Linked DNA regions of Homo sapiens. The protein of the gene in region 1 interacts with the protein of each later gene in a pairwise test. Each region holds a gene or a part of one and is shown in the gene's direction. Other genes may lie near its edges. The genes, in order: ASCL4, DR1, RNF11 and GTF2B.

Evidence for each region.
Region 2: the proteins of ASCL4 (region 1) and DR1 interact in binary tests that used the Homo sapiens proteins (3 or more experiments, as listed by UniProt).
Region 3: the proteins of ASCL4 (region 1) and RNF11 interact in binary tests that used the Homo sapiens proteins (3 or more experiments, as listed by UniProt).
Region 4: the proteins of ASCL4 (region 1) and GTF2B interact in binary tests that used the Homo sapiens proteins (3 or more experiments, as listed by UniProt).

What each region holds. Positions count from the first base shown.
Region 1 is NC_000012.12:107,770,698-107,777,167, forward strand, and holds ASCL4 (achaete-scute homolog 4), read left to right. Parts: upstream 1-4,006; 5' UTR 4,007-4,521; coding exon 4,522-5,040; 3' UTR 5,041-5,947; downstream 5,948-6,470. UniProt on the Homo sapiens protein: Could be a transcriptional regulator involved in skin development.
Region 2 is NC_000001.11:93,362,892-93,369,922, forward strand, and holds the end of DR1 (protein Dr1), read left to right. Parts: 3' UTR 1-6,602; downstream 6,603-7,031. UniProt on the Homo sapiens protein: The association of the DR1/DRAP1 heterodimer with TBP results in a functional repression of both activated and basal transcription of class II genes.
Region 3 is NC_000001.11:51,267,242-51,273,947, forward strand, and holds the end of RNF11 (RING finger protein 11), read left to right. Parts: intron 1-2,714; coding exon 2,715-2,884; intron 2,885-3,909; coding exon 3,910-4,081; 3' UTR 4,082-6,206; downstream 6,207-6,706. UniProt on the Homo sapiens protein: Essential component of a ubiquitin-editing protein complex, comprising also TNFAIP3, ITCH and TAX1BP1, that ensures the transient nature of inflammatory signaling pathways. Promotes the association of TNFAIP3 to RIPK1 after TNF stimulation.
Region 4 is NC_000001.11:88,853,568-88,860,598, reverse strand, and holds part of GTF2B (transcription initiation factor IIB), read left to right. Parts: intron 1-312; coding exon 313-459; intron 460-587; coding exon 588-717; intron 718-1,811; exon of another isoform or gene 1,812-1,918; intron 1,919-3,111; coding exon 3,112-3,393; intron 3,394-7,031. UniProt on the Homo sapiens protein: General transcription factor that plays a role in transcription initiation by RNA polymerase II (Pol II). Involved in the pre-initiation complex (PIC) formation and Pol II recruitment at promoter DNA.

The sequences.
Region 1 (6,470 bases):
AAGCCTTGAGTTTGGTGCCTCTTCATAATTCACACCAAGGTGTTATATAGACAAGAGGAGGCCTTGTAAAACTTGCGGTAGGAGAAGGTAGCCTTAAACAGGGGAGAAAAGACAAAAGCTAGAAGGAAAGGATTAAAATATACCTGCCCATCTGCCCCCTTTCATGAGCAGACCCAAATAGGACTACACAAACCCAGCCCAGTTACTCTTGGCAGGTTAGCATATGTGTTACGTGATCTAGCCAGCCTTAGGACAGCTTTAGGTTGGAGAGAATGTTTATCTGGGTCAAAACTGACTGGAGAGTAATCAGGAGTCAAAACTTCTTCTTTTGATCTCTTATGTAAAGAAGGTAACCCCCACCCCATACCCTGCACATCATGTGAGTAAAACAGTCCTATTCCTACTGGAAAAGCCACTTATTTTCAATGCTTTTGTTCTTTAGGAAAGGCTCTGTCAGCATTCTTTGTGACCATGCAGTTAGGTCATTATATTACTTGGATCCTATAAAAAGACCACTGTAGGATCAGGATTTGACCAGTTTTTTTTTTTTTTTTTTTTTGACGGAGTTTTGCTCTTGTCGCCCAGGCTGGAGTGCAATGGCATGATCTCAGCTCACCACAACCTCCGCCTCCTGGGTTCAAGTGATTCTCCTCCTGCCTCAGCCTCCCAAGTAGCTGGGATTACAGGCATGTACCACCACGCCCAGCTAATTTTGTATTTTTAGTAGAAACGGGGTTTCTCCATGTTGGTCAGGCTGGTCTTGAACTCCTGACCTCAGGTGATCCTCCTGCCTTGGCCTCCCAAAGTACTAGGATTACAGGCATGAGCCACCGCGCCCGGCCTTGACCAATTTTGATTGTGGTATTAGCAGTGAGAGAGAGAGAGAGAGAGAGAAAGTCTTGTAGATACTTCGTCCTCAGAGACAGAATTTACAAGGAGCCAGAAAACCTGGTCTAAGAGTTCTAATTTCTAATGGTAAATCTGTTGGTTTGGGCCAGATCAGGGGGTGTCATTTGAACTTTCTACACATTTTATCTTATTAAGTTTCACTGGGTTATAAAAATAAGAAAGTAATAGTGTTGGTATTAACAAGTTAAACAGTAGAAAGATTTATAAAGAAAAATGAACATCCCCCCTTCCTCCCCAATGCCACCCTTTCTTTTTAGGCAACCAATGCAAAAAACCATTTAGTATGTGTCTTTCTATTTCATTCTCCATGCTCACAGAAACACATATAAAGGACATACACATCATGTAGAATTGTTTTTATGTTCCTGCTGCATATGTTACTCTGCAATTTGCTTTTTTCACTTAAGACATTGTGGATATGTCTGCAAGTTCTTACGTACAGATTTTACTCATTATTTTTAATAATAGCATAATATTCTAAGATTTTTAACTCTTTTCCTATTGATGGACATTCAGGCTGTTCAGGCTGTTCCCTTTTTCTTCTTCTTCTTTATCTATTTATTTATTTTTTGAGACAGAGTCTCGCTCTGTCGCCCAGGCTATCTCAGCTCACTTCAACCTCTGCCTGCCAGGTTGAAGCAATTCTCCTGCCTCAGCCTCCCAAGTAGCTGGGACTACAGGCATGTGCCACCATGCCCAGCTAATTTTTTTGATTTTTAGTAGAGATGGGGTTTCATCATGCTGGTCAGGCAGGTCTTGAACTCCTGGCCTCATGATCCTCCCACCTCGGCTTCCCAAAGTGCTGAGATTACAGGCGTGAGCTACTGTGCCCAGCCTCGCCTTTTTTTTTTTTTTTTTGAGACTGGGTCTTGCTCTGTCACCCAGGCTGGAGTGCAGTGGCGTGATCTTGGCTCAGTACAACCTCCGCCTCCAGGATTCAAGTGATTCTCCTGTCTCAGCCTCCCAAGTAGCTGGGATTACAGGCACCTGCTACAACGCCTGACTAATTTTTTGTATTTTTAGTAGAGACAGGGTTTCGCCACGTTGGCTAGGCTGGTCTCGAACTCCTGACCTCAAGTGATCCACCCACTTTGGCCTCCCAAAGTGCTGGGATTACAGGCATAAGCCACCTTGCCTGGAGTCTTCGTTTTTTTAAATTGCTACAAATGTTGCAATAAAGATTATTGTACACATAAATAGGTATTGCTACATTTATTTTGGTAGGACAAAACGGCACAGATATCTGAATCAAAGGATGTGATGTGCACTATTAATTTTAACAGTTTGTTTAGCTGGGATGTGGAGGCACAAGCCTGTAGTCCTAGCTACTCAGGAGGCTGAGATAGGAGGATCCCTTGAGCCTGGGAGGCGGAGGTTGCAGTGAGCCGAGATCGCATCACTGCACCCCAGCCTGGGTGACAGTGAGACCTGTCTCAAAATAATAATAATAATAATAATAATAATAATAATAATAATTTTAATAGTTTCTTGAAGCAATTTATGCTCCCACCCTTTCCTCAAATCCTTGCCTCCCCTGAATCTTAGCAATCTTTTAAACTTTTGCCAATCTGAGAAGGAGAAATGGCATCTCAACTGTTCTTCCTTTTGCTCTCTTCCAATCTAGTCCTCAATCTGCAGACACAGTTATCTTTTTTGAAACACAAATCTTCAAATGTCACCTCCCTGCTTAAAATATTTCATTATCTTCCTGTCACTCTTAAAAGTTAAAATCTTTGACATGGCCAAAAAGCACCTTGTGGTATAACAGCCTACCTGCCTGAGTGGTGGACTTTTCTCCTAATAGAAAGGGCTTTCTCAATTCTACTGAGAAATTGTGATGATATATTAGGCTATTTGCCAGTACAAACCTCATCAGGAGCTACAACTTTTAATTTTTCTTTCTTCTTTTTAAAAGATGGGGGTCTTGCTATGTTGGCCAGGTTGGTCTTGAACTCTTGGCCTCAAGCAATCCACCCGCCTTGGCCTCCCAAAGTGCTGGGAATACAACCTTGAGCCACTGCACCCAGCCAAGCTACACCTTTAAAAATGTGACTAACTTATACCCGAAAGGAATAATTATTTCTATTTTATTTGCCTTGTTTTTTGAGTTGCTTCAGGCGGATCATTTAGAACAAACAGGGAAGAACAGGACTTGCCAAACTAAAAAGAAAAACATGTTAGGGCAGCACCTTGTCTGCTGAGGAATAGGCAAAAGCTCTCATCATAAATGTAGGGGGTTTTTGCTTCTCTTGTTTTTAAGTAGGACTTTTAAAGTAGAAGACACCTTTAATGTACTGGTTTGCAGAAGAGGAAATCTGATTTTCAGTGTGATAACATATTCTTTGACGTTAACCAGTACAGTTGGATTTTTAATGACACTTTAATCTTCAAAGGTTTACCAACACGGATGGATTAATTATTCATTTTGGAGGGGTTGTGTCTTAAAAAGACAAGTCTTCAAAGACATCATCCTTTCTCCTTGGAACTTGGAGTCTCCACCTTTCAAATGTTGCTTTCCTGCCCCCAAGAGAGAAAATAAATGACATTTTTTAAAGAAGAAGAATCCAATGGAAAAACACTCTTTGCGCTATGGAAAGATGATGTCCTTATATCCTGGGTGAGATTAGAAGAGGAGGCTGGGAAGCAGTATTTAAGCTGTGTTTACAGTAAGCACTGTGAGAAATAACCGGCTAAGCGCGTTTGTTATTGTTCAGTCTTTTGATGTGCTTTTAAAAAGTCGCATCTCCATAAAACACCCTCAACAACCATAAAACAACATATGTTGGAACATAATATGCAGACCCTTATATTCTTTGCTACAGTCTGTATTTTTCCTATACCCTTCAAACATGCCTCATTGAGTTTTTAAAAGATTCGGTTTGGAAGAAGAAAAACCTCAAGCCTCGCCCCGGGTCTTCCTTGACTTGACACATTTTATAACCGCAAGAGAGCAGTTTTTCCTTTGATGAGGCTAAGACCCCAGAAATGAAAGAGCAAGTTTAAGTTTGCAAACACTCTAAAAGCTCCTTCCATTAGACCTGGTCGCGGGAAACCACAAAGGACAGTCAAGTGATTTTCAAGGAGAAAGCCTCTGGTCCACTTTCCCTCCGCCGCCAGATCTGCAGGTTCCTGGGAGGAGCTCTTCTCAAATCCTGAAGATTGCTAGGCTCTTGGCGAACGACTCATCTCTTGAAGACCTAGAGTGGTGGATTACAGGCATTGAAAAGCTTTTGGTGGCTTTGGAAGATGACTCTGGTGTGAGCTCACCTTTCCAGGCTGGGGGACCAGGCAGAGGAACCCCCTTTGTTATCTTCTGAAAGAAGATCAGTGGGGAAGACGGGGTTTGAAGTGTGGATTAGGAGATCCTACGTCTTTGCCTACCACCTCTGCCTAAATCATAAAAAGATCGAGGAGTGCAATGAACTTCAGGAATCATGCACCGTTTCCCTGAAGCCTGTCCAGGAACCTAACTTCTGGACCCAGAAACTTCTGCAAAGACAGACCCACTGAGCCAGGCAGTCTGCACCAGCACCTCTGCTTCTAAGATTCTGTTTCGTCTTCTTCTATTGAGAGATTGACCTCTTGAGTGATTTGTGTGCTTTCCGGCAAATGATGGAGACGCGTAAACCGGCGGAACGGCTGGCCTTGCCATACTCGCTGCGCACCGCGCCCCTGGGCGTTCCGGGGACCCTGCCCGGACTCCCGCGGAGGGACCCCCTCAGGGTCGCCCTGCGTCTGGACGCCGCGTGCTGGGAGTGGGCGCGCAGCGGCTGCGCACGGGGATGGCAGTACTTGCCCGTGCCGCTGGACAGCGCCTTCGAGCCCGCCTTCCTCCGCAAGCGCAACGAGCGCGAGCGGCAGCGGGTGCGCTGCGTGAACGAGGGCTATGCGCGCCTCCGAGACCACCTGCCCCGGGAGCTGGCAGACAAGCGCCTCAGCAAAGTGGAGACGCTCCGCGCTGCCATCGACTACATCAAGCACCTGCAGGAGCTGCTGGAGCGCCAGGCCTGGGGGCTCGAGGGCGCGGCCGGCGCCGTCCCCCAGCGCAGGGCGGAATGCAACAGCGACGGGGAGTCCAAGGCCTCTTCGGCGCCTTCGCCCAGCAGCGAGCCCGAGGAGGGGGGCAGCTAGCGAGCGCCCGAACTGGCCAGGACCCCCGCGCCCGCCGCACAGCGCGCAGCCGGGCGCTCAACCTAAGGTCCTCTTCGAAGGTGGTTTGCATTCTTAATCTGGCATCTTCTCCAGGCCTAAATCTTAAGAAAAAGAAATGGGTGCTGGGGTTTGGGGGATGGGGGAGTTGTTTTGACATTTGGGAATTTCTCCCCTGCCCTTATTGGTTACGTGCCTGCAACTTATAGGTGCTTATTAAGGAGACTCTTTTCCTATACTTCTAAAATGCAAACTGTTTCAGATTCTGAGCACCTCATTGTAAATACGATTATTCTAAAAACTCAAAGGGCGAGAACAACTGGAATTTCCCACCTTCCGTGGTGTGGGTAAATGGTATACATAAACATTAAACCTTAACCAAAGAAGAACTTTACCGCCACCAAAACAGAAACAACCCCAAACAGCCAAAAACAGTCCTTAAAAATGAGAGGAACATTTTCTTGCATTCCTTCCTTCGGGAATTGTATTCAAAATGTAATGGAAAGTAATTGTTGACCTCCTGCTTTGGGTGAAGGAGACTGTAAGCTGGTACTTGAGAACGAATTTGCCAGCATGTGCTGTTGTTGACTGTGTGAATGATGGTGCCAGGGAATCCGTGGCTTGGTACACACTGTTTCATCCAGTGGCCACGTGGAAGCTTTGTAGCATTGAGCAGATAGTAAAATATCTTAGAATTAATGATCTCTTTGGAAGAGAGCCCAGATTTGTATGAAAACTTGTTTTTCCTCTCAATTGTTTTGTCCACTGTTTTCTTCATTTTCCTTTTCTCTGCATACCCCCCGCCCCCCAACGTGTAGCTCTCCATCTAAGTTTTGGATAAACTGAAGTGGCACTGTGACTTTAAAAATAAAAAAGAAATCTACTTGGAAGTCCTTTTTGCGGGTTGAGCCAGATGGGGGAAAGATATGGGACAAGACGGATGGATTGAAGTTGGTACATTCTCAAATATTTTTATCACCATTAGGGCTTCCAGGTACAGTATATGGAAATGATGTAGTGACTTTGGCCATGTTAAAAGCCTTTTTAAAATATTGAATTTGGGTCATTTTTTTTCTAAGAAACAATTTTGAGTTCAGTAGATAAGTTAAATGCCTGCTGATGTATGAAGATCAACTTCCCTAAGATTGTTTTCTAATATGCCGAATTATCCTTTCCATGGAGGCAGCTTTGGTTTGTGGGGGAAGAAGGAGGGGAAATGGAAATGGACAAAGAGAACTAACAGTGGAAGTGCATCCTCCAGGTAGATTTCACTTAGATTTTATTACCCCCTTTTACAGTTGTAGCAACTAAGGCAGGCTATATCTTCAGTGGACATCTTTTATGTGCTAGGAATTTTGTTGTGGCTTTTTACATTTTGTCCTATTTAATTGTCATAAATTTGTGGGGTGGGT
Region 2 (7,031 bases), on another chromosome or scaffold:
ATTTTTTAAATCTTTTGAAGAGAGAAACAAAATCTTCAGCGTTCTTGAGAAATAAAATTATTGTTCAGTAAGTATTTTTCCATCCCCTTGAATATATGTTATATATTCTTTTTCGGCAGATTATCAGATTAGTAAGTGTTTAAAAGGCATCAGTTTTTAAAACTGCATATACCACACACACACAAAACAGTACACAAATAAAGGTTTTCACAAATTAAACAAACTCACATACTAGTCTTCAGATCAAAACACAGAGCATTATGTGTACCCCAGAAGCCCTCCTCTTTCCCCATCTTAACACTGTCTTCTTTCTTGCTGAAAGTTACTATCCTGACTTCTAAAATCATAGATTAGTTTTGCCTGTTTTTTATTTTATGTAAATGTAATCATACATAATACACTTTTTTTCATTCATCATTTTTGTGAATATTTTAGTTTCTTGTTGCCACTGTAACAAACTACCACAAACTTAGTGACTTAAAACAACACAGATTTATTCTTTTATAGTCCTGGAGATCAGAAGTCCAAAAATCAGTTTCATTAGGCCTAAATCAAAGTATCAGCAGGGTTGGCTCTTTATTGAGGTTGTGAGGGAGAATGTTTTCTTCCCTTTTTTGGCTTCCAGTGACGGCCTGTATTTATGGGCTTGTGACCCCTTCCTCTCTATGATCAAAGCTTGCTTTTGTCATTATATCATCTTCTCTTCTGTAGTCAGATCTTTCCCTGCCTCTAAGTTTAGGGCTCACCTGCATAAAGCAGGGATAATCCCCCTATCTCAAGATCCTTAATTTAATCACATCTGCAGAATCTCTTTTGCCATATAAGTGACATTCACAGGTTCCAGGGATTCATACGCTGGCTATCTTTGGAGGCCGTTATTCAACCTGCCAAAGTGAGATCCATTCTTATTGTTGCATGTATTTGTAGTTCATTCATTCTCATTGCTGTATAGTCTTCCGTTTGTTTATCCATTTTTCATTACATCCAAAAGTTATTCATTCTCCCATTAATAGTCTTTTGAGAATTTTTCAATTCTGAGCTATTATGAATAGTACTGTGTAGAACATTCTTATACATGTCTTTTGGTGAGTGTATACATTTCCATTGAGTATAAACCTAAGAATGGAATTGCCAGGTTGTAGGGTGTGTATATTTTCAGTTTTAGTATTTACTGTCAAACAGTTTTCCAAAGTGACTGTAAGAAGGCACCATTTTAATGTGTAGCATAAAAATGAATTACGCTAATGATCTTAGTGGGTTGAATTTCTCGAAACACCTAAATTGTACCAAATGAGTTATATTGCAGCAGGTATGTTGTTAATTTCATATAACAGGAAAATAAGAGCAAAAGTAATTGCCCTTATTAACTGACACATTAGTATTACATACTCATTAGGTTATTGCTCCTTAGAAAAAATGCAAATTTTAAGTAATCGTAAGTAGTATGTTGAATTAGTATGTTGTGGGAAAATCTGTGATTTAATTTTTTAATTGAATTTTAAATTTTGGGTTATAACCTCATTAAAATGCATGATATTTCCTTATATAGGTTTCTAAATTATGTCTGTCCAACTCATCTATATCCAAATGGCCATTAGGAAGAATTATCCAATTCAGATGGCATAGGCACTGCCTTCCAATTTCTTCATTTGTATTTTTTTGTTGCTGTTTTCTTTTTTGCCTCTGTCCCCAACAATTTGACCACAAGTCCTACCCCACCTCCTCTGTTTTTCACCATCCCCCAGGATATAAAGTGTCATGGTTAGGATCGGCCAGGGTGAAGAGAATGATAACATAAGTAGCCTCCTTTCACCTAAAGTATTACCACTGGTTCTTATCCTATTTCCTCAAAATAAATGAGAAGAGAAAGTAAGGAATAAGAGGAAGAAACTTTTTTTTTTTTTTTAAAGAAACAGGGTCTCACTATGTTTCCTTTTTCTTTTTTCTTTTCTTTTCTTTCTTTTTTTTTTTTTTTTTTTTGAGACAGAGTCTTGCTCTGTCACCCAGGCTGGAATGCAGTGGCGCGATCTCGGCTCACTGCAAGCTCCGCCTCCCGGGTTCACGCCATTCTCCTGCCTCAGCCTCCTGAGTAGCTGGGACTACAGGTGCCCGCTAGCACGCCCAGCTAATTTTTTTTGTTTTTTTTTAGTAGAGACAGGGTTTCACCGTGTTAGCCAGGATGGTCTCGATCTCCTGACCTCGTGATCCACCCGCCTTGGCCTCCCAAAGTGCTGGGATTACAGGCGTGAGCCACTGCGCCCGGCCTATGTTTCTTAATATAGATTGCAGTGGCTAGATTACAGTGACTATTCACAGGCATAATCATAATGCACCATAGCCTCAAACTCCTGGGCTCAAGCAATCCAAAAGGAGGAAACTTTTAACTTATGATCAGTTTCTACCATAAATCAAGCAACTTAGAAAAACCTTAGAACAGGGTTTCTCAAACCAAGCATTGTTAGTATTTGGGGTTGGTTAAGTCTTTGTTTGTGGGAGCCTATCCTGTGCATTGTAGGATTTCTAGCAGCATAATTGGCTTATGCCCACTTGATGTCATTAGCACCACTCCCCACCCTACTTCCAGTTGTGACAACCCAAAAATGTCTCCAGACATAGCCAACTGTCCCTGGGTGTTGCGAGTATAGGAGGCAAAATTGCACCCTGTTGAAAACCACCACCTTAGATCATCTAGGTTTTACTTTTAGGATAAGACACTTGAGGGAAAGGCTGTGAAACTGAACCTCTGTTAGAAGCAACACACAGTATCACTGCAAAAAGACTAAAAGAAATAGGTGATTTGGAAAGAGGAGGCCCAGGATTAAAATATGTTTCCAAGAAAGTCAAATCTTACAGGAGACTCTTGACTTCACATCTGCTGATCCCTTTACCCGATAGGACCTAGAGCAGCCATTATAAATCTCTGTACCTGCTTGCTGCTTTTCTACCTCATTGTTAGCCACACCCAGTTTGAAACAGATGAGGTATGCTATTTCATAACTAGTACATCTTTTAATAAGCATTTTTTATTGTGATTAAATATGCATATCGTAAAATTCACCACTTTAACCAGTTTTAAGTGTTCAATTCTGTGGCATTAAGTATATTCATACTATTGTGCAACCACCACCACCATCCGTCTACAGAACTCTTCATCTTCCCAAACTGAAATTATGTATTCATTAAACAATAACCACCCATTACCTCCTCTCTCCTCAGCCTCTGGTAACCAGCATTCAGTCTCTATGAATTGACTACTCTGGATATCTAAATGGATTCATTCTTATTTCATTTACCATAATGTCTTCAAAGTTCATTCATGTTGTAGCATGTATTAGAATTTCTTTCCTCTTAAAGGCCAAATATGCCGTAGTATGTAAATACCGTATTTTGTTTATCAGTTCATCCATTAATGGACACTGGGTTGCTTCTGCTTTTTGGCTATTGTGAATAATGCTTCTGTGAACGTGGGTATACAAATAACTGTTTGAGTCCTAATAGGCTTGTTATTTTTGAGTGCACAGATCTGTATATTCGCAATTGAAATAGGGAAAGTCTTTATATTCATATAAAGATAATTTATAATACAATAAGTCCTCAATGTTGTTGATAGGTTCTGGGAAACTGCGAGTTTAAGAAAAACAACATATAATGAAATCAATTTTACCATAGGTGAACTGATATAAATAAGAGTTAAGTCCCTATGGCATATATTTCTGGTTACAAAAACACTACCAAATTTCTAATAAAGACCCAAAACACTTCTAAAATTAAACATTGAGATTAATATGAGCTTTATATACATTTAAAAAGGATAAAAACAAGTAAGAATTGGCTGGACATGGTGGCTTACGCCTGTAATCTCAACACTGGGAAGTCGAGGTGGGCAGATGGCTTGACCTCAGGAGTTCGGAACCAGCCTGGGTAATATGGTGAAACCCGTCTCTACAGAAAAATTCAAAAATTAGCCAGAGGTGGTGGCTTGCACCTGTAGTCCCAGCTACTCGGGAGCCTGATGTGGGAGGATCCCTTGAGCCTGGGAGGTCGAGGCTGCAGTGAGCCATGATCACGCTACTGCACTCCAGTCTGGGCAACAGAGCAAAATCCTATCTCAAAAAAAATATATATATTATCCAGCCCCAAATGTTTATGGGGTTGTTATTGATAAACCCTGCATTAAACAATCCCACAGTCGGTGCTGCGGTGAGCCGTGATGGTACCACTGCATTCCAGCCTGGGTGACAGAATGAGACCCTGTCTCAAAAAAAAAAAAAAAAAGTAAAAATTATTTACCCAATATTTGGCGAATCAGTGAGTGACAGCAGTTGTAGTGCTAGTGGGTTAAATCAAGGAATAACTGTTGGGAAGTGAAAATTTTAAGGAGCACCTCCTACCACCATGCAGTTCAAAAACAAAAAATAAGAAATAAAGTGGGCTTGCTGAGTGCTTTCATACTGCATCATTTATTGTGCATTTGTATGATTATTATATACTTTACAAATTTTCGTTTTACAGTAATTTGTATTCATTCGTTTTTCAACCTGCTTATTTCAGTTCAGTGTCTTGGGTAGCTGGAGCCTATCCCAGCAGCTCAGGGAGCAAAGTGGGAGCCAACCCTGGACAGGATGCCTTTTCATCACAGGGCGCACTCACACGGCACACACACGCATACTGGGACCATTTAGCTGTACCAATTCACCTAACGTGCATCTTTGGGAATTGAGAAGAAACCAGAATACCCAGAGAAAACTCATGCAGATATGTGGAGGACATGCAAAATTCACACAGACAGTGGCCCTGGTTGTAAATAATTGTTTTTCATCAATGTTATAATGAAATTACAGGCCGGGTGTGGTGGCTTACGCCTGTAATCCCAGCACTTTGGGAGGCCGAGGCGGGTGGATCACGAGGTCAGGAGATAGAGACCATCCCGGCCAACATAGTGAAACCTCATCTGTGCTAAAATACAAAAAATTAGCCAGGCTTGGTGGTGTGCACCTGTAGTCCCAGCTACTTGGGAGGCTGAGGCAGGGGATTTCTTGAACCCAGAAGGCGGAGGTTGCAGTGAGTTGAGATCGCGACACTGCACTCCAGCCTGACAACAGAGCAAGACTTCGTCTCAAAAAAACAAACAAAAAAAGAAATTACATTAGTTGAGGACCTGCTGTATGTGATATGAACAATGAGGATCAACTCTTTTTGTAATAGTTTTTTTACATATGTTATTTCATTTGTTTATTTCCTCTGTGAGGGTAAGTATTGATAGTCCAGTCATAGACTGGTAACACAGGCACACCATTAAAAATAATAGACATACAGTATGCAGTATTTTGTTTTACTTATGAAACTCCGTATTTTATGTATGATGTATTGAGTATGAAGAATAGTACATACTGTTTCCTTTTAACTTTATGTTTCTTGCCTTTGTATATTTTATATGAATAGCACTTGTCACTAACATAGAAAGCAGTAGAGGTGGAAGAGGGAGACTTGCCAGAATAAGTTTTTAATGTGAATCAGAGATTTTTATTAGGAATTGGGAGTGGAAGGAGAGAGATAGTATTAGAAAGTATGTATGCAGCAAAGGATGGAGAAACTGTCCTTGTTGTTAAGGCATCTAAGGATGCTCCAATTACTGGGGAAAACATACCAGGCTCAAAATGGTCTGATTATGCAAATACCTTCTAATACGTTTGTTTCTTTTGTTGTGCCTATAAAAGATGCCATTAACTTCATATTTATGTCACTAATAAACTTCTAGAATCCATGTAGTAGGGTGTAGTAGTGTGGTTAAGCTATGAAGAACAATGGTATTTATTTCCAAAACACTTATTTGGTATATTACATAGGATAGAGTATGTTTTCTAAGCCAAATAGTGTTAGGTTTTCATGTGCAGTTGCCTTACACATATACTAGTAGCCCTTACAAAATTTCGTCTGTCTTTATTATAAACATGTTGTAAGTGAGGAAACTAAGATTCCAAGAAATTAAGTACTGTTGGCCCTCTGTGTCTGGGGGTTCCACATCTATAGATCGACCAACCATGGACTGATGGATTGAAAACATTTGGGGAAAAAACAAAAAATAACCCAACAATGAAATAGTATAAATTTTAAAAATAATATAACAATATTTATATATCATTTACATTATGTTAGATATTATAATCTAGAGATGATTAGCATCCTTGGATTTTGGATTTTGGTATCCTTGGGGTATCCTGGAACCAATCCCTGGCGGATACCAAGGGATGACTGTAATATAATAACATCTAACAAGTGAAGGATTTGAACCCCAATGTAAGTAATTATGAAAACTATTTTTCTTCCACTAGAACTTTTTTCCCCAAAAATACTCTGGAAATACTGGAACAAATACTAAAATAAATGACCTTTATTTGAAGATCTTTTAAAAAAATTATAAGCCTGCCTGAGGATAGCAAAATTGTGTGCTTTTGCAAGGTAATTGTAGAACTCATTCTAAGGAAGCAGAGGTAATGTCTGTTACTATTTTCAGCTCCCTTTTTCTGTCCACTGTTGTCTAAATGATTCACTCAGTGTTATGCAGAATATGAGAAGTTATTTTATAAAGTTGATTTGTGGTATAGGCTTTACATATGTCTTTTCTTTTGGTCAAAATACTAAAGAAAGCTTATAGAAAAAGTGACCTGGTGTCAGGTTTTAGTTTCATCCTTATCCAAATGTTGCAGAATTTTGGAATCTTTTGGAGTACACTTTCTCTTTAAAACAAGCCCATCACCTTTAGTATAGTGGTGAGTAAAAATAAAATAAAAACAAGGCCAAATTGCGTTTTTCTAAATTGCAAGTTCCCTGTTTTCCATATCCCAGTAACAAACCTACTGTTGTGCAAATAGGAAATAACATCTAGTAGCTACTTTAGCAATGGACGTGGCAAAATAAATAAATTAGTAGCTATGGCTCATTATTTAGGATTTAAATGAGCCATAACTACTATAAATGAAATTGAAGATCATGTTCTTAATTTGAAATTAAGGATCATGATCTCATTGGTA
Region 3 (6,706 bases), on another chromosome or scaffold:
TCAAAATATTTATTTATTTTTCATTTGTTTTCAGCTGGGGACGAAACACAGTAGCTTTGCAAATATAAAGTGGGAGCACAACCTAGCACTGGCGTTGGAGGTCCTCAAAACAGTCCCCAGGTTTGGTGATTCAATAGGAGGGCTCTTAGGACTTAGTATATAATCTTACTCACATCTATGATTTGTTACAGCAAAGAATCAAAGCAAAATCAGCTAAGGGGAAAGGTGCTTTGGTCTAAAGGGAACTAAGCACAAGCTTCCAAGAGTTATCTCCTAGTGGAGTCACACAGGACATGCTTAATTCCTTCAACATATATGAAAGGTTTTCTGCCAGAGAAGCTCATTTGGAGACTCAGTGCCCCAGGTACTGATTAGGCACCCACTGCCTAGCATATGACAAAATTCCTGATTCTCAGAGGGGAAGCAGGTGTTGAACATAAACCATATAGTGTTCGCAGATAGGGAATGGTGGGAACCACCCCCAAATCCATATCTTTTTTTGTTGTTAAGATGGAGTCTCTCTCTGTTGCCCAGGCTAGAGTACAGTGGCAAGATCTTGGCTCACTGCAACCTCTGCCTCCCGGGTTAAAGCAGTTCTCTTGCCTCAGCTTACTGAGTAGCTGGGATTACAGGCGTGCACCACCACGCCCAGCTAATTTTAGTATTTTTAGTAGAGATGGTGTTTTACCATGTTGGCCAGGCTGGTCTCGAACTCCTGACCTCAGGTGATACGCCTGCCTCGGCCTTTCAAAGTTCTGGGATTACACGCATGAGCTACCATGCCCAGCCATCACATCTTTTAAAATTGTTGTTTTTATACCCCTGTCTAATCTTCTACTCACTCAGTGTCTGTTAGCCAACAATTGAATCAGGATTCCATTTTGCTGCCTAGAAAATCAGTGGCTGTCTAGTTATGAAACAATTGATAACTCAGATATCAAGCCATTTTAAAACAAGTATCATGGGAATTAAAATTTAAAATTAGGCATGTGTGGTAAGAAGGGTGAGGCCACATTCATCTTTAAAATATCAGGAGGTCTTAGTCATTTCCTTTCCTCTATGGTTTTCTGAACCATGTAAACTGAAATTAGATTGTTCAATCATTTTAAATATCTAAAAGATATAGAGAGGGTTCCTTTGTTTTAACAAAAAAATACCAAAGGAGAAAATACACTCATAACGTGAATTAAAATATAGTTTTTATTTTCTTCTTTAATGTTTATTAATGTTTCCCCGTAAAGTAGAACTTTCCTTTTCTGTTCTGCTTTCTGTGTTCTCTACACGTATGTGAACCACAAGACTGAAGAAATCTAGCCTCTGAAAAACCCATAGTTGGAGTTTATTTTCTCTAAAACAATTTAGTTATTTTTGTTTGTTAGGTTCAAGGATTTAAGAGACCCTTTATATTATCTTAGTCTTAAACCAATTTGTTCCCAGTTTGCGTGTGGATGACAGCTCATCAAAACTGGTCAACTAGGACTGAGGCTAAGATTCAGGAAGGTAATTTAGACTGGAAATGGTAATTCAAGGGTTGAAGAACTCAGAGCTGGCAGAGATCACAACAGAGTCCAAGAGTTTGTAGTATTCAAAGAGAAGCCAGAAAGCCAGGACCAAAGCCAAGGACAGTAGCACTTAGCTTAAAGTCTGCAAAGCAGAGAATCATGATGGGGAGAATCATGACGTTGGGGAGATGTTAGAATAATTTACAAATATTGGCATTTACAAAGCTCTTAGTTATCTCATGATTATATCAACTCTTTAAAGTGGGTACTGTTATCTGCTTTATTCAAAGACATTAAGAGACTTGGTCCAAGCAATCACAGTAAGTAGCCGAGCTGAGACTGAAATCTTATAATTTAATTCTTCAGACTGAAAATCTCATCTTCTGAGATAGTAGTGTTTTTCAGACTGCTCTGTTGATTCTGAGGATTCTGCAAAGGTAACCAAGGTGAGGGCTTGGGGATGGGGAGCCTCATCCCTTCTAGGCCACACTCCATCCCAGCTTCATTCCATCAGAGTTGCTCAGTTTTAAATATTATTATAGGCCAGGCACCATGGCTCAACCCTGTGGCCCCACTACTCAGGAGGCTGAGGTTGGAGGATTGCTTGAGCCCAGGGGGTTGAGTTTACAGTAAGTTGTGTTTGTGCCACTGCACTTAAGCCTGGGCAACAGAGGGAGACCCTATCTCAAAAAAAGGTGGGGGTTATACACACGATTCCTTTGAATTGTTTTGTTGTGTAAAAAATCAGTTGGATTAGGAGCAGCAGAATTCTAATTTCAGTATTGTCAATTAGTGACTGTAGGCAAGCTTGGTCCTATGAAATGGGAAAGTTAGTCTTAGATAACTTTTAGATTTATTTTTGCCATAGTCCAGTCCATTTAAAAAGTTTTAAAAATTATTTTTAGAGATGAGGTCTTGCTATGTTGTCCAGGCTGGTCTCTTATCATGTGGAAATAGTTCATTTAACATTCCATGCCAGTTCAGTGAAGTCTGTGTTTATATCCTTTAGGCAGAATGAGAATGTTTTGGTGTGTGTATGTTTTATTCTAGTAGCTGAAGTTAAGGCAGGGTGAAACACAGTCATACAGCCAAACACTAGCCCAGCTTCCTACCCCTCCCAGGGCTCCCTTTCCCTTCTATCTCTGACCAAAAAATAAGCCCTCGAAAGGTTTTTAAAAAATAATCTTTTTCCTCTATATTTTAATATTTTAGGAACAAGTTCCAGTTCCAGTCTACCACCCAACACCTAGCCAGACTCGGCTAGCAACTCAGCTGACTGAAGAGGAACAAATTAGGATAGCTCAAAGAATAGGTCTTATACAACATCTGCCTAAAGGAGTTTATGACCCTGGAAGAGATGGATCAGAAAAAAAGATCCGGGAGTAAGTTTTAATTAATTTGTACATTTCAAAGTTTTATTTTCAGATTGCTTTTGAAAAATTTGCCTTTTCTCCTGCACTTTAGAAAGTCAGACATTTAATATATTGAAACACTTCGCTTAATGCAAGAGAATGTTTAATTTTTTTTCATAGCTCTATTACTGGCTACTAGCAAGAGAATGTTATGTAGTAATTAAGAATTTTCACAGGCCGAGCACAGTGGCTTATGCCTGTAATCCCAGCACTTTGGGAGGCTGAGGTCGGGGGATCACTTGAGGCCAGGAGTTCGAGACCAACCTGGCCAACATGGTGAAACCTCATCTCTACTGAAAATACGAAAATTAGCCAGGCATGGTGGCACGCGCCTGTAATCCCAACCACTTGGGAGGCTGAGGTGGGAGAATCACTTGAAACTCTGTCTCAAAAAGTAAAATAAAGTAAAATAAGAGAAAGTTAGTGTTAATGAAGAGAGCTTTAACTTACAGCAACCCAGTAAGTAGGCTGAAGTTAGTGTTTCTGTTTTTACAGTTATTAAAATGAAAATTATCTTACTCTAGGATTACTCTAAATAGCACAAGGAAACAAAGTTGCCCGAAGTTAGTGTTTCTGTTTTACAGTTACTAAAATGAAAATTGTCTTAGTCCAGGATTACACTAAATAGTGCAAGAAAACAAAGTTGATCTAACTGATGCTTTTCTACCTAAAATAATCCCATTCTCCTTCAGGTATCTGCTATAATATGTAGCTGTTTACAAGCACAGCAGTAGATTTGATGCATATGTAATCCATTTCTCTTTGCTCTGTTGATTGCTCCTAAGTCCTGCAAATTCTCAGGGGATTGAAATAAGAGACTGTGGACAGATCAACATTAGGAAAAAATTCAGTTTGCATGCTTTGGCAATAAGATGACAGGCAAAGCATTCTGATGTGTTACTCAGATTAACACTGTCTTTAATGGGATTTAAAGAGTTTTCTGAATAGGACACTTCTGAAAATGCCTTCTGATTTCTCTCCATTGCTCTCAACAGGTGTGTGATCTGTATGATGGACTTTGTTTATGGGGACCCAATTCGATTTCTGCCGTGCATGCACATCTATCACCTGGACTGTATAGATGACTGGTTGATGAGATCCTTCACGTGCCCCTCCTGCATGGAGCCAGTTGATGCAGCACTGCTTTCATCCTATGAGACTAATTGAGCCAGGGTCTCTTATCTGACTTCAAGTGAACCACCATTTTGGTGGTTTTGATCTTTTGTCACTGAGCCCAAAGAGCCAGGGATTAGGAATTAAGATCGTGCACAAAAGTTTCCTTAAAATTCCTGGATGGCTGCAGATGTTGGGGGAAAAAGTACGTGATATTTTAGAAACTTAGTGGGAAAAGTAGGATGGTATTTTTATGTAAAGCCTTGACCCAATGTTTAAAAATATAATTGTATTTAGATCTTGTTATTGCTCCAGTACATAGGAATTGTGTAAAGTGTTAACAGCAGCTGTATTTGTTTAAATTGTGTGTATTGAAGATTAGGAAAAAGATAGTAGTTATTTTTCCTAAATGAAATAACTTTCTTCTCTTCCCCTTCCCCACCCGAATTCTTTTCTGAAGTTGCTGGCATTTGGGTCAAGGTTTTATTAAAAGCTACATTTTATAACACTGGCACACACAAAAAAGTAGTTTTAAGCTTGTTTGCACAGTTCTTTTTTTCCATTGGAAATGGAATTCATTGCCTTAGGTCTTTTTAAATAGTGTATTATTATCGTTGGGGCTGGCTCTATGCTTGAAAACCAGTTTATTTATAACCTGTTATAAGTGCTATATTCTGTTTGCAGTTAGGAAATGCAGAATTCAAAGTGATCTCCTAGCTTGTAAGCAAACTGAGATGCACTATCCCTTTTCTATAAAAAATAAGTTAATGTGTCAAGAAACCAACTCTATTAAGGTGGGGTTTAATATTACCCTTTCCTATGTGTTTTATCTAATTATTTTGGTTGTTAATATGGTGATAATGGAAAGTCAAGTTAAATTTTAAATATTAAGAATTCTGATTTATTGAGATTGAATTATGCCACCACGTTTATGTAAAAATGAAGGTGGCACCGTGGTGAGACCTAATGAGAAATAGTTACTCAGTTGTAAAAATTTTGATTTATTCTCTTTCTTCTGACCTCCTTGCCTCTTGTCTTGAACCATAGCAAAAGGATACTGCATCTCTCATTACTGTAGTGCTGAGGTTATTGAAGTTATACAAAACACATCTCAGTCTCTGTTTCTTGGAAAGGTATCTATTACATCCTGCTAGCTGACTGACAAAACTAAGCAGGGAGAATAAAGATAATTGTATTTTATGTTTTGCACACAAACGCAGAATTTGTATAACCATATGACTTCATAGTTGTGATCTCAAAAAAGAAGGAATTTCTCCTTTGTTTCTTGCAGTTAATGTAAGAATACTTTAAATCTCTAAGCTTCTGAAGTGTTAGAGGTAGAGATGGTCTAGTAAAGATGTAGTAGTAATGTTTTATCCATTTAGCATGTGTTTATTTTTTCATATGTACTCAAAGGTGACTTATTGGTTCACCTCAGTGATATTACAGCTAAAAAAATCATTCATTAGCAAAAGGAAAAGTGGTCTCAACCTAACATCAGAAGTGTTTCTTATTATTATTTTATATTGAGTTGAATATTGAACTCTAACAGTTTTCTACATACAAAACACAGTGTCATGAAGGTTATTCATAATTGCATTATAGAGGAATGTAGTATGTCATAAGTACTTTGTAAAGATTTGACATTCAACTGTAGTATCCATATGTTGCTTAAATTTCCTTATGAGCCCCATGATGGAAAGACTTAAAGATGAATTTGAGAAAAATTGAAAGAAATTAGATTATCAGGTTCTGTTAAATTGTTACATGTATCTTGCTTAAATTTCTGTTTATTAATTTATATCCACCCAAGTACATAAAGCAAATTTGGAGGAAACAACTGAAGTTGTGCAATATTTTCTGATAATTGCTTTTTTTATTCTTGTGTTTTCTACTTAAACATAATGTCTGTGTCATCAAGTATTATAGTCAGACTTTTCTTTTTTTCTAGATTGTTAAAATTGGCAAATGAACTTTTTTAAAAATCATCTTCCATGTTGCAGTTAGTCTTTCTTTTCATTACAAGTCTTTCACAGAAGTTTGGTGGTAATATTGAAAGAACTAGCATTGGGCAGAATGTGTCTTTTTTAGGCACTTTATATTCTCAACATACAATGTTAAGAACCATCAATTTTGACTTTTACTAAGTTGTTAAATAAAGTTATAATACAGCTGTGAAGGGCTAAAGTTAGAGTTGATTACATAAGTAAGTATTCCCCATATAATCTTTTAAAAAGTTGTGTATGATTATTTTAAAATCTCTCTCTCTATATATACCTGTGGGAAGTATTTTTTATTGTTTGGCATTTAATATCATTTAATCATATACTTAGGCTTGATAGCACCAAAGTTTCTAAAACCAAACAATAGCTATAATCTCTTGATTTAGATATGGGCAAGATATGTCCAAGCTTGGCTGTGGGATTTGAAATTTCTAAAAAGCCTAACCAGGAAGAAACAAAAGAATCTTATCCTTTTGAGTGTAAAACCTAACAAGTTGAAATACTTTCAGATATTTGTAGTTTACCTAACACAAACTTAAAAAATTCTGTGAGTTTCTTGATAGGGAATCTCCTCAGTCGGTACTAGAAGACTCGCCCCCTGCTATTGGTGTTTATCATGTGATATAAAACAGTATGATTTCATGCAATAGTAAGCATTGAGATAACAGATCCCCTG
Region 4 (7,031 bases), on another chromosome or scaffold:
ATGCTGTTGGATTCTGTTTTCTAGTATTTAATATTTTTTATCATATTTCTAAGTGAAATTAGACTGTTTCTTTTTCCATTGTTTTGTCAGGTGTTTGTATCATATTTCTATTTATACACTTTAAGCTTCCTATTTTCTATGTTCTTGAACAGTTGTTAGAATTACATGTTCATTTAGTATAGATGAGCAGGATGCACAATTCAGATTTCTGGTCTATGTAGAATCAGATCTTGTAAGCTATATTTTCATAGAAATTGTCCATTTTTCATGCTTTCCAAAAAATTTTTTCATAGTTATAAAACTGTTTTATAGGGCACAGGAGCTGCAAGTTTTGACGAATTTGGCAATTCTAAGTACCAGAATCGGAGAACAATGAGCAGTTCTGATCGGGCAATGATGAATGCATTCAAAGAAATCACTACCATGGCAGACAGAATCAATCTACCTCGAAATATAGTTGTAAGTTCTTGTCTACCTCCTTTAAGCCATTCTGGCATTGACTTTGCATAATTTAATGAACACATGAAATTTTGATATTGCAGCTAATTAAATGACGTAGAGTTAAACTTAGTTTCTCTGCTTTGAAGGATCGAACAAATAATTTATTCAAGCAAGTATATGAACAGAAGAGCCTGAAGGGAAGAGCTAATGATGCTATAGCTTCTGCTTGTCTCTATATTGCCTGTAGACAAGAAGGGGTTCCTAGGACATTTAAAGGTAAGTTTTTAGCTTTGTTTTTTTGTGTTTGTTTGTTTGTTTGTTTGAGATAGGGTCTCACTTTGTCGCCCAGGCCAGAGTGCAGTGGCGCAATCTTGACTCACTGCAACCTCTGCCTCCCAGGTTCAAGCTATACTCCTGCCTCAGCCTCCTGAGTAGCTGGGATTACAGGCATGTGCCACCACACCTGGTTAACTTTTGTATTTTTAGTAGAGACAGGGTTTCGCCATGTTGGCCAGGCTGGTCTCAAACTTCTGACCTCAGGTGATCTGCCCACTTTGGCCTCCCAAAGTGCTAGAATTAACAGGCGTGAGGCACTGTGCCCATCCTAAAATAACATTTTCTACATCATATTAAAGAAACAGACCAATGTCAGGCAGCTTTGACACTTAGAAGCTAAGTCATCTTTATTGTGACTACAGTAATCCACTTGAGCATCATTTGCCAATGCCTACTTATTTCATTCCTTGACAGCAAATTCATAGCATGTTCTTTTAGGCTGTTTTCCCATGTAGACTCATTTTAGTCCACGTAAGCCCACTATGTTCTTTTCTAGTGAGATCTTTTGATGGACTGTTGCTTTGTGGGCTTTCAGAAGGCCTATAATCGTAAACCAAAGTAGGCCGTTTATACATTTGGTTTACATGGAAACAGTTTCCATTTCTAGCACTGGTCTCTGTAGATGAGGGAGTCAAGCTTTAGAAAGTATCAGTGAAGGCCAGGTATGGTGTCTCACACCTGTAATCCCAGAACTTTGGGAGGCCGAGGTGGTTGGGTCATGAGGCCAGGAGTTCAAGACCAGCCTGGCCAATATGGTGAAACCCCGTCTCTACTAAAAATACAAAAATTAGCCAGGCGTGGTGGTGCGCGCCTGTAGTCCCAGCTACTCAGGAGGCTGAGGCAGAAGAATCGCTTGAAACCGGGAGGCAGAGGTTGCAGTGAGCCGAGATCACGCCACTACACTCCAGCCTGGGCGACAGAGTGAGACTTCATCTCAAAAAAAAAAAAAAAAAAGTTATCAGTTAAGTTTTTTCTCTTGAGGTGTATTGTTTGCACTTTTACACTTCAGTTAAGAACTGGTATTTTTCATTTAGTTTGCAGTTACATGTGAATATGTGATAATTTGTTCAGTGTTGCTCACTGACTTCCACTACCAAAGCTCAGTTTAGCTGAAGACTATACTTAACCCTTTATTCATCCAGTGAGTATTTATTTTTTATGTTTTCTTACGTAAAAGTGAAGAGGTGATGGCCTTTATCATCATCTTTTTTGTTGTTTTTATAACTAAAACAACTTTTGTTAAATTTCTTCTGAAAGTGTGTGGTGGTTGCATCTGGGAATAGCAGGGTCAGATATTTTATCTCATTGAGCTACAGCCCATAATCGCAGGGATTTCATGCACACATGACATTGTGTTGCCTAAGAGGCATCCTTTAGCTTGAGTATTTTCTTTCAATTCCTTGGTAACACTGCTTACAACAGATTAATACATAAACATCAAAGAATTTTTCATTTAAAGAAATTTAGTTGTATGAATTAATCCTTAGAGCAGTTAATATTTTGAAAGATTAAGACCTAAATTTAGCCAGGCACGATGGCTCACACCGGTAATCTCAGCACTTTGTGAGGCCGAGGCAGGTAGATCACGAGGTCAGGAGTTCAAGACCAGCCTGGCCAAGATGGTGAAACCCCATCTCTACTAAAAATACAAAAAATTAGCCGGGTGTGGTGGCAGGCGCCTGTAATCCCAACTACTCGGGTGGCAGGAGAATCGCTTGAACCCAGGGGGCAGAGGTTGCAGTGAGCCAAGATGGTGTCACTGCACTCCAGTCTGGACGACAGAGTGAAATTTCATCTCAAAAAACAAAAAAACTCTAAATTGAAAGAGTGAAGAACATTAGGCCAGGCGCAGTGGCTCATGCCTGTAATCTCAGCACTTTGGGAGGCCGAGGTAGGAGGATCACCTGAGGTCAGGAGTTCTAGACAGGCCTGGCCAACATGGTGAAACCCCATCTCTACTAAAAATACAAAAGTTAGCCAGGTGTGGTGGTGCACGCCTGTAGTCCCAGCTACTCGGGAGGCTGAGGCAGGAGAATCACTTGAGCCTAGGAGGTGGAGGTTGCAGTGAGCTGAGATCATGCCACTACCCTTAGTCTGGGCGACAGAGTGAGACTTCATCTCAAAAAAAAAGGTGTGATGAACATTAAAGTTAACTGAGAAATTTGCAGTTAACTCTGTGGGAAGTATCACTGAGATGATTAGGGTTTCATCTTTAAGGTATGATTGAATGTTTTACAATTAGAATGTATATTATGTTTATAATTAGAAATGGTAGATTTTAAGATGAACTATATGGCTTAAGTGAATTGATTTATTTAATTTTTTTTCTTTTAGAAATATGTGCCGTATCACGAATTTCTAAGAAAGAAATTGGTCGGTGTTTTAAACTTATTTTGAAAGCGCTAGAAACCAGTGTGGATTTGATTACAACTGGGGACTTCATGTCCAGGTTCTGTTCCAACCTTTGTCTTCCTAAACAAGTACAGATGGCAGCTACACATATAGCCCGTAAAGCTGTGGAACTGGACTTGGTTCCTGGGAGGAGCCCCATCTCTGTGGCAGCGGCAGCTATTTACATGGCCTCACAGGCATCAGCTGAAAAGAGGACCCAAAAAGGTAGGGTTCGTCATCAGGAAGTGTGGCAGTAAACTGAAATTTGCAGCATGTGATTGTTTTTCCATTTTAAGTCTGAACCGGGTAAATAGCAAGAAACCCACATTTGACCAGGCGCGGGGGCTCACACCTATAATCTCAGCACTTTGGAAGGCCGAGGCGGGAGGATCACCTAAGGTCAGGAGTTCGAGACCAGCCTGATCAACATGGTGAAACCCCATCTCTACTAAAAATACAAAAATTAGCTGGGTGTGGTGGTGGGGCTTGTAATCCCAGCTATTCAGGAGGCTGAGGCAGGAGAATTGCTTGAACCTGGGAGGTGGAGGTTACAGCAAGCTGAGATTGTGCCATTGCACTCCAGCCTGGGCAACAGAGCAAGACTCCATCTCAAAAAAAAAAAAAAACCCACGTTTAAGACATCATTCCTCAACGTCAAAATGTTAAGAAAATATGTTTTGCTTTTTAAGCAGCTCATAAAAAAAATGTTCAGAGACATAACCCTGTGAACAAACCTAATTTTTTTCCCATTTGAATTATTTTAGTTTGTACATCTTTTATTCTTACAAGTTCTTTTTTCTCCCTGAATATATTCCTCCTGATCATTTTGAATACTCTTTTCCTTTCCAAACTTACCTTTTTAAATCTTAGGGGTCAGGGAGGCCATGCTTTGTTTCTCACTGCTTGGCATGGGATTCTACAGATAGACACACTGTAAAATACGTGTTGGCCATCAGCCTTTAACATTCTGTGAAGGTTGGTTTTTTCCCATTTTGCACAGTATTTTACAGTTTCTTAATACAAATTCTGAAATAAGTAGATGTAAGTAATTCAGCCTTCTAAAGCTATGTTTAAATTTAGTGTTGTAGGAAAACTTTCACCAGAAGTATTAAGTGAATTTCTTTTCCTTTTTTTTTTTTGTTTTTTTTTTTTTTTTTTGTTTTTGAAACAGTCTCCCTCTGTTGCGCAGGCTGGAGGTACAGTGGCACAATCTCAGCTTACTGCAACCTCCACCTCCCGGACAAGCTATTCTCATGCCTCAGCTTCCTGAGTAACTGGGACTACAGCCACGTGCCACCACGCCCAGCTAATATTTGTATTTTTAGTAGAGATGGGGTTTCACCATGTTGGGCAGGCTTGTCTCGAACTCCTGGCCTCATGTGATTCGCCTGCCTCCACCTCCCAGTGTGCTGGGATTATAGGCACAAGCCACCACACATGGCCCACTAACTCCCTTTTAAAGTTAGAAGTGACTACTCCTTTCTAAGTCTTTGAGGATTACAGAAGTTATTCATGAACAAATGCATGTAAAGAAATTCATAAACTAGGTGCGGTGACCAGCCTCCTGGCCAACATGGCAAAACCCTGTCTCTACTAAAAACACAAAAAAATTAGTCGGGTGTGGTGGCACATATCTGAATCCCATTTAGTAGGGAGGCTGAAGTAGGAGAATCACTTGAACCTAGGAGGCAGAGGTTGTAGTGAGCTGAGATCATGCCACTGCCCTCCAGCCTGGGTTGATGGAGTGAGGCTCTTTTTCAAAAAAAAGAAAAGTTGGTGGCAGGTCGCGGTGGCTCACCTGTGTAATCCCAGCACTTTGGGAGGCCAAGGTGAGTGGATTGCTTGAGGCCAGCAGTTCAAGACCAGCCTGGCCAACATGGCAAAACCCCATCTCTACTAAAAATACAAAAATCAGCCCAGCATGGTGGTGCACACCTGTAGTCCCAGCTACTCGGGAGGCTAAGAGACAAGAATCTCTTGAACTTGGGAGGCAGAGGTTGCGGTGAGCCTAGATTGCACCACTGTACTCCAGTCTGGGAGACAGGACTGTCTCAAAAAAAAAAAAAAAAAACAAAAACAGAAAGTGAATTACTGGCCTCAATAACTTTGTAATACTTTATTCACAACAGCCTTCAGCTTAGGCTATATGTTGAAAAAAGTAATAAATGATAGGAATAATTAGAGAAAGAAAGCCAATCATTAGTTATTTGAAGGAGCCATTATCCATTCCCTTTGGCCTTCACTCACGTTTTAAGGAAATTTTGAGTCTTTTAGTAAAATTGAGAAGTTGCAGCTAGGCAGTTTGTCCTTGAGGTACATTCCTAGTTGTAAAGTTTATTCTAATGAACAACATGAAAACATTAATCTTGTTGCTTTCTGCTTTTTGGCTTTATATGTAAAGTCTTCTTCAAATGTAAGGTCTTTCTCTTCCCTGCACAGCAGGCAGTTGACATTCAAATAGTTGGCATTTATTGGTATTTAGATGTAGAATAATGTAATGCAGTGTGAGATACGGAAATTTAAAATTAGCTAATTGTACAATGATGGCAGGCATTCACAGTGAAAATCACTAAAACCTCACTGATTTGAATCAACTGAAAAGGTAGTAAAATGAATTTGTATTAAAAGGTGTTTAGGCCAGGCGTGGTGGCTCATGACTGTAATCCCAGCATTTTGGGAGGCTGAGGCAGGTGGATCACCTTAGGTGAGGAGTTTGAGACCAGCCTGGGCAGCATGGTGAAACCCTGCCTCTGCTAAAAATACAAAAATTAGCTGGGCATGGTGGCAGGTGCCTCAGCTACTCAGGAGGCTGAGGCAGGAGAATTGCTTGAACCGGGGAGGCAGAGGTTGTAGTGAGCCGAGATCTTGCCATTGCACTCCAGCCTGGGTGACAGAGCAAGATTCCATCTCTAAATAAATAAATAAATGATGCTTAAAAATCCATTTTAATAAAGCATTCATAATACTTAACCAAACATTGTAGTGGCAGTCCTTTAGTATTTCTTTTAATGACTTTGAAAGGAAAAAAGGGACAGCGACTTTAAAGGGTAAAAGTGGATCTGTTAGGATTCTGTACAATGTTCGTTTGAGCTCAAAATATTTAAGTATGTGCTTGTATCAGTGAAAAACATCTCCGTATGCTATAATAAGTAGCTGTTTGATCTCTGATGTATTAAGTAGAAAAAAAGATTGTAGAACAATATTTATAGTATCACATTTTGTTTTTAATAAGGACCCCTTAACAGAAGTTAGCTAGGGGAGATTTTGCATGGGAGCTTTCAAACACAGAAATATAAAGTGAATTTCTTTACAAGAACATATTTGTGGAGTACTTTTGTGATCCTCAGAAAGATTTATAAAGAAAAAGGAGGAGTCAGTTGTAAATACAATACCCAGTATAAGATGATAACACTCCTAATACTAAGACCTGAACACTATTCATATATTTTATGTTAGTTAAACCCTTTAAAACATTGACAACCCTGTAAGGTAGTAAGTACTAGTAATCATTTTTATTGTTGCTTGTTACTGACTTTAGCTCCCACTTTTTTTTTGAGACAGTATTTGGTTAAGTATTATGAATGCTTTATTAAAATGGATTTTTAAACATCATTTATTAATTTATTTAGAGATGGAATCTTGCTCTCTCGCCAGGCTGGAGTGCAGTGGTGCGATCTCGGCTCACTGCAACCTCCTCCTCCTGGGTTCAAGCGATTCTCCTGCCTCAGCCTCCTGAGTAGCTGGGACTACAGGCGCATGCCACCACGCCTGGCTAATTTTTTGTATTTTTAGTAGAGATGGGGTTTCACCATGTTGGCCAGGATGGTCTCGATCTCCTGACCTGGTGATCCACCCGCCTCGGC